2 linked regions of the Homo sapiens genome follow. The protein of the gene in region 1 interacts with the protein of each later gene in a pairwise test. Each region holds a gene or a part of one and is shown in the gene's direction. Other genes may lie near its edges.

Region 1 (3,818 bases):
AAGAACAACTGACAGATCAACTATGGTTTTTCAGACCTGGCTATTTTAATGACATTTAAAAAATATTAACTAAATGAGGCTGTCTCTTCAAGGAAAGATACCTTGTCAGTTTTTGTTCCCAAAATTAGAATTTTAAAAAACTTGTGTATCTTACCACTCTGGGTTTGATAGCGTCCCAACAGTTAACAAGCTTTTCTGATGAGATCTGTAGTTATTTTACCAAATGTGATTTTGGGGTACTATGGAATGAAATCTGTCACTATTTGTAAGATGTGTGTAACTCAGTAAATCAGTACTTAAAAGACCCATTCAAAATACAAGACAAACAATGGGTTTTAATGTAACAAAGAATGAAAAGCTCATTGATAGGGTTTACAGAGTGCACACTGCAGCTAACCTTTATAAAATTACCACCCAGCACATTTAAGATAGGCTAGGCTAAGCTATGATGTTTGGTGTGTTAGGTATATTAAATGCAGTTAGAGATAACAGTATTTTCAATTTAGATTGAGTTAATTGGGATGTAACCCCATTGTAAGTTACAGAACATCTGTATTACAACAGATTAGATACAGAACAGATGTGAGAATATAGGTGTCTTCTGTTAAGCCAGACACTGAAAACTTGCAAAAATGTAAAACAAATAATACCACTCTTAATTAATAGGTAATAGAGTTATCCTTTTTTTTTTTTTTTTTGAGACAGTCTTGCTCTGTCACCCAGGCTAGAGTGCAGTGGTGGCCTTCATACCTCACTGAAGCCTCAGTCTTGATGGGCTCCAGCAGTCCTCCCACCTCACCTCTCCCCTCCAGTAGCTGGGACTGCAGGGGCACACTACCATGCCTAGCTAATTATTCTGTTGTTGTTGAGAAGGAGTCTTACTATGTTGCCCAGGATGGTCTCAAACTGGGCTCAAGCCATCCTCCCTCCTCAGCCTCCTAAGATTATAGGTGTGAGCCACCAAACCCGCCAAAAATTACATGCTTTAAAATGTCTTAGTTTGAATTTCTCATACATTAAATATCTATAAATATAATCCATATCAACAGAAGTTTCTTGGGGTCTTTAATAATTTTTAAGAGTGTAAACTCCTGGGCTCAAGCAATCCACTTGCCTTGGCCTCCCAAAGTGCCAGGATTACAGGCTTGAGCCACCGCACCTAGCCATATATAGTGTTTTTTTAATGTAACTTAGAATTTAATAGACCTTAGATTCTTTTTAATCAGCATATTGTTGACCAAGTTTATGAATAATAGATTATGATTATAATAGATGATAGAATGATTGGGAATTGCTGATCTAATGTTAACTATGCACAGATTTGCTGAACCATTGACTCCCTGAACACCATAGAACTTCTCCATTGAGGGTTGCTAGTGGTTACTGGATGCTAGAGGTTGAGTAAGGATGACATAGCTAGCAGTCTGGTAACTTAAGGAATGAATAGAGTAGGTTTTTTTGTTTTTTGTTTTTTTTTTGAGATGGAGTCTCGCTCTGTCGCCCAGGCTGGAGTGCAGTGGAGCGATCTCGGCTGACTGCAAGCTCCGCCTCCTGGATTCACGCTGTTCTGCCTCAGCCTCTCGAGTAGCTGGGATTACAGGCGCCCGCCACCACGCCCAGCTAATTTTTTTGTATTTTTAGTAGAGATGGGGTTTCACCGTGTTAGCCAGGATGGTCTCGATCTCCTGACCTCGTGATCCACCCGCCTTGGCCTCCCAAAGTGCTGGGGTTACAGGCGTGAGCCACCGCGCCCGGCCTGGAGTAGGTATTTTAAACCGGCTTGAATTTTCCTTGTTTATGATGCAAAGAATAAGAAACACCAGATTTAATACATTTTTTTAAGAATAAAGTTTTACCTATTAAAATATGTTCTAATTTAGGCCGGGTGTGGTGGCCCATACCTATAATCCCTGCACTTCGGGAAGCCAGCGTCAGAGGATCACTTGTGGCCAGAAGTTCGAGACCAGCCTGGGAAACAGTGAGAACTCATCTCTATTAAAAAAAAAAAAGTTCTCATACAATTACTTTTGCTGGATTAGAAATACAAACGTTAATCTTGACTTTATTAGTCAAGCTTTATACTTTCTTTTTCTGACTTTTTTTTTTCAAGGCTTTATTGTATTTCATAATTGTTCTGAAATGTTAGAATTTTTTTCTTAAATATAGCTTGGCTGTTTCAGAAATGTGCTTCCTCTAGCAAAATAAAAAACTTAAAACCTCTCCTCACTACCATCTATCAAACACAGGATTCTTCACAGTGTTATTTCTTGGTTTAGCTTGTTTTAAGCTGCCCTCTCCTTCTTATGAAATGCTATTATGTTTTAAATCAAGATCTTTAAGAAGGCCATGCCCATTTTCACCTTATGTGTTTATATGAATCAAGCTTTAGAATTAGGATGAATATCAGGTTTCTTGCAGTCAACATGTCCTTCCCCCTAAATTTGTTCTTGCAGTCTTGCCTCTCAATTAATGGCAGTTCCGTTCTTCTAGTTGATAAGGTCAAAATCCTTGATGCCATCTTTATTTTCCTCTCATCTATCTATCCATGGAGGATCCTCTTATCCTCCACATCTCATCTATCCTCAGCTCTCTTTGCTCTTATTTAAGAACATATCCATCCCGAATTGCTGCCATCATTTTTCACCTGGGTTATTGCTATCGTAGCTTCCTCAGTCGATAGTATCTTGTCACTTCACTGTGGTGGTTTTTCCCAGTGGCCTGCAGAATGCTGAAGGGTTTCTCCTCACCACATGCTTCCCTGACCTCTGACTGGTGTATCTCCTTCCCCAGGCACACCAGCCATATTAACTGCCAACCTAGTGTGCATTTTACTTACTTATTTTGTTTATTGTTTGACTCTCGCATTAAGAATGTAATCCCTATGACAGGAGAGTTTCATGTTTTTGCTCTAACCCTAGGACCTAGAATAATTAATGATGCAGCAATAGCTCGATAAATTGAAAGAATAAATGAAAAGGATCACTTAATTTTTCCTAGAGGAAACTAGTTTGCATGGATAGTATGACTTATTCTTTAAGTTTTTTAGAGTGGCATTTCCTGGACCTGGACCTAGATTTCCTGATTTTTAGATGTTAACTTTTTATATACAGCACTGTATGCTTTTTGTGGGAAAATAGTGTTTTTTGTAAATGAATTTAAATAAATCCTTGTCTTCAAAATAAGAGGAAACTACCTATACTGAATTAGAACTATTTAAATAATGATTTGTGTGATGGCCAAAGAGTTCTTATCAGAAGTGGCAAAAACTACATACAGGTTGGCTTCCAATAACATGAGCCAGGTATTTTTCAGTAATATTTTGAAGTGTCTTTTCTTTCTAGACATGCACATGATGGTGTCCAAGCCAGAACAGTGGGTAAAGCCAATGGCTGTAGCAGGAGCCAATCAGTACACCTTTCATCTCGAGGCTACTGAGAACCCAGGGGCTTTGATTAAAGACATTCGGGAGAATGGGATGAAGGTAAGAAATCGTGATGAGAGTGTTTTGTAACATTCACTCTCAGTTGGGAAGATTTGCGGGAAACAGGAAATTTTCTCTTTTTTTGATACAGTCTTGCTCTGTCACCCAGGCTGAAGTGCAGTGGCACAGTCAGGGCCCATTGCAGGTAAAGAATACCTTACTTAAGCAGCTGTTCTTCAGCTATGATGCCAGGATTTAACTTCTTTGTCACATAGCATTTATGTATTCCACTAAAGTTTTCTGAAAGCTACTGCTTGTTGAAAATACTTACATTTAATAGTCTTGTTAACTTTTAAAAAATAAGAACAGATATTTCTACTGGGCCTGCTATGCCACA
Region 2 (3,818 bases), on another chromosome or scaffold:
GAGACCAGCCTGGCCAACATGGTGAAACCCCGTCTCTACTAAAAATACAAAAAATTAGCCAGGCGTGTGGTGCACGCCTGTAATCCCAGCTACTCCGGAGGCTGAGGCAGGAGAATTGCTTGAATCCGGGAGGCGGAGGTTGCAGTGAGCCGAGATCGCGCCACTGCACTCTAGCCTGGGAGGCAGAGCGAGACTCCGTCTCAAAAAAAAAAAAAAAGATTTTCTACTGAAGGGTCCCAACTTAGCAAGCCTGTTTTTTTTTTGTTTGTTTGTTTTTTGTTTTTTTTAGACGGAGTCTCGCTCTGTCTCCAGGCTGGAGTGCAGTGGCATGATCTCGGCTCACTGCAACCTCCGCCTCCTGGATTCAAGCAGTTCTCCTGACTCAACCTCCTGAGTCGCTGGGATTACAGGCATGCACCACCACGCCTGGCTAATTTTGTATTTTTAGTAGAGGCGGGGTTTCACCATGTTGGCCAGGCTGGTCTCGAACTCCTGACCTCAGGTGATCCACCACCTGGGCCTCCCAAAGTGCTGGGATTACAGGCGTGAGCCATCATGCCCAACTTTAGCAGGCCTGTTTTTTCTGCTAGTGTCTTATTCCTTGTGGCTTCCTAGATTCATGAGCTGGTCTGCATTCTAAACAACCCTAGGGAAATAATAGGGCTTAGGAAATCCAGTGTGTGTGTCTTGATGAATTTAGCTGCTTTTTTTTATGATAGTTGAGAGCTAAGACTCTTTATTTATGACCTTAGCTTTGATGATTCAGCAGCAAGTACTGTCTGGTAACTGGGCCAATTCACTGTTCTAAGGCAGTTAATGTGGTGGAGTGAGATGGAGCGGTGACCTCAGCAGAGGGAGCTAGTTTTGGGAGCCTGGCGATGGCCCAGATGTGAAGTGATAGCTCCCTGAATGAGTGAGGAATCACACACTGAGAAGGAAAGAACAGGTGTAGGAAGCATCAGAAGAAAAGATTGATGAGACTTCGTAGCAAATGCTGACAATGGCAGCCAGTTTTCTTTTGTTTTTTTTGTTGTTGTTGTTGTTTTGAAACAGGGTCAGCCGGGCGCGGTGGCTCACGCCTGTAATCCCAGCACTTTGGGAGGCCGAGGCGGGCGGATCACGAGGTCAGGAGATCGAGACCATCCCGGCTAAAACGGTGAAACCCCGTCTCTACTAAAAATACAAAAAATTAGCCAGGCGTAGTGGCGGGCGCCTGTAGTCCCAGCTACTTGGGAGGCTGAGGCAGGAGAATGGCGTGAACCCGGGAGGCGGAGCTTGCAGTGAGCCGAGATCCCGCCACTGCACTCCAGTCTGGGCGACAGAGCGAGACTCCGTCTCAAAAAAAAAAAGAAACAGGGTCTTGCTCTGACACCCAGGCTGGAGTGCAGTGGTGCAATCATGGCTCACTGTAGCCTCGCATCTGCTAGGCTCCCACCTTAGCCTCCTGAGCAGCTGGGACCACAGGCATACACCACCATACCCAGCTATGTTTTTTTTAATTTTTTGTAGAGATGGGTCTTGCTGTGTTTCCCAGACTGGTCTTGAACCCGTGGGCTCAAGCAGTCCTCCCACCTCAGCCTCCCAAAGTACTGGAATTACAGTTGTGAGCCACCTGCCAGCCCCACATTTGCAATTTTTGTGTTAAAAATGTCTTTGTAAGCTCTGTACTTTGTCCAAGTAAAGAGAGACCTTGATTACTAGAGAAGAGTCTTTTTCAAGCTCTTTGGAATCCTTCCTATTGTGCTTAGTCATGTTAAAGAGCTTTATTCTTTCATTCTACAAATAATTATTGAGCACCAAATAATTATCATGCCAGGCACTGTAAGGAGTGAAGAGAGGAAAGAAAATCTCTGGGCTTTTGAGAAACAGGCTGGTGAAGGAATACAGTCAGCGCTGGAGACTGGGGGTTGGACTTGAGGTGCTTGGGCAACTTTCCTCAATTCCCTTCGTTTTTTTCCTTAGTCTGAAGTTGCAGCCGGAGTGAAGAAGAGCGGACCGCTGCCCAGTGCTGAGGTAGAGTGTCGGATCTGTTTTCTCCCCCAGGAGGGAAAACGTCAAGTCACAGCCAGTGCAAGTACACCTCTGACAGAGGCCTGTGCTGACAGCTGGCAGAAAGCTACTGCCGGCTTGCACGTTTTACATGCCAGCCTGCTGGTGTCTTTTAATGCAGAGATTGGAGAATGTTCTCTTTGGACCTCACGACTGCTCCCATGCCCCTCCGGATGGCTATCCAATCATCCCAACCAGTGGTAAAGTCGAGAGCCCTCCTGACTGTCCCGAAGAGGTTGGGACACAGCTACCTTGTCTAAAATTCTGTAGGCTTGGCCGGGCGTGGTGGCTTATGCCTGTAATGCCAGCATATTGGAAGGCTGAGGCGGGTAGATCACCTGAGGTCAGGAGTTTGAGACCAGCCTGGCCAACATGGTGAAACCCCATCTCTACTAAAAATACAAAAATTAGCTGGCATGGTGGTGGGCACCTGTAATCTTAGCTACTTAGGAGGCAGAGGCAGGAGAATCACTTGAACCGAGGAGGCGGAGGTTGCAGTGAGCCGAGATTGTGCCATTGTACTCCAGCCTAGGGGACTACACTAAAACTCCATCTCAAAAAGAAAAAATAAACAAAATTCTGTAGGCTTTGACCTTACTATCTTCTGCTCCTCTAGGATCTGTGCCAGTTCAGAAGCAGGCGAGCCTCTTCCCTGATGAAAAAGAAGATAACTTGCTGGGTACCACATGCCTGATTGCCACAGCTGTCATCACGTTATTTAATGTGAGTAGCACAGAAACTTCACTGAGGTGATGAGGACCCCCTGGGATTTACTGGATTTATTCAGCAGGCTGTCTGCCTGGAGCATTGCATACACTCGGAGACTAATGCTGAGAGCAAAACCCAGCAGTGCTGGGAGAGGCATAGAGACCAATGAGCAAGGTGGCACTGACCACTCTGGAGGAGGTGGTCTGGGGACGTGGATGGGGGATTCTCTTGAGCTCTGTGTGAAGAAATCTTCCAGGAAAGGCTGACGTCCTGTTGTTGAACAGCACCTAGTGGGAGGAGGGCCTGCGCTAAGAGAACATACAAGCAGGGCTTTCCAGACAAGCTGCAGTGGTGGTGGAGGAAAAACGGTTCACCTGGATGCCCAGCAGGGGTGGCATGGGTGTACTGTCCGATGAACTGTAGAATGTGCGCTGCCCATAGCTTCCTGCCTGACCCCAGCACCACATATGTGTGCTTTCAGTGAAGAAGAGAAATGATTTTTTTTTTTTTTGAGACAATCTTGTTCTGCCACCAAGGCTGGAATGCAGTGGCACAATCATGGCTCACTGCAGCCTTGACTTCTGAGGCTCAAACGATCCTCCTGCCTCAGCCTCCTGAGTAGCTGGGATTACAGGCATGAGTCACTGTGCCCAGCTATTTCACTTTTTTTGTTTGTTTGGTTTGGTTTTTTGAGATGGAGTTTCGCTCTTGTTGCACAGGCTGGAGTGCAGTGGCATCATCTCGGCTCACTGCAACCTCCACCTCCCAGGTTCAAGCGATTCTCCTGCCTCAGCTTCCCTAGTAGCTGGGATTGCAGGCGCCCGCCACCATACTTAGCTAATATTTTATATTTTTAATAGAGATGGGGCCACTATGTTGGCCAGGCTGGTCTCGAATGCCTGACCTCAGGCGATCCACCCACCTAAGCCTCCCAAAGTGCTGGGATTACAGGCATGAGCCACCACACCCGGCATTTTTTTTTTTTTTTTTTTTTTTTTTTTTTGTGACAGGATCTCATCCTGTCACCCAGGTGGGAGTGCAGTGGCACCATCCTGGCTCAC

Evidence for each region.
Region 2: the proteins of RPE (region 1) and EXOSC10 interact in a two-hybrid assay, tested with the Homo sapiens proteins (one large-scale study listed by BioGRID and IntAct).

What each region holds. Positions count from the first base shown.
Region 1 is NC_000002.12:210,012,632-210,016,449, forward strand, and holds part of RPE (ribulose-phosphate 3-epimerase), read left to right. Parts: intron 1-3,341; coding exon 3,342-3,481; intron 3,482-3,572; coding exon of another isoform or gene 3,573-3,626; intron 3,627-3,818. UniProt on the Homo sapiens protein: Catalyzes the reversible epimerization of D-ribulose 5-phosphate to D-xylulose 5-phosphate.
Region 2 is NC_000001.11:11,075,796-11,079,613, reverse strand, and holds part of EXOSC10 (exosome complex component 10), read left to right. Parts: intron 1-1,962; coding exon 1,963-2,013; intron 2,014-2,170; coding exon 2,171-2,249; intron 2,250-2,665; coding exon 2,666-2,772; intron 2,773-3,818. UniProt on the Homo sapiens protein: Catalytic component of the RNA exosome complex which has 3'->5' exoribonuclease activity and participates in a multitude of cellular RNA processing and degradation events.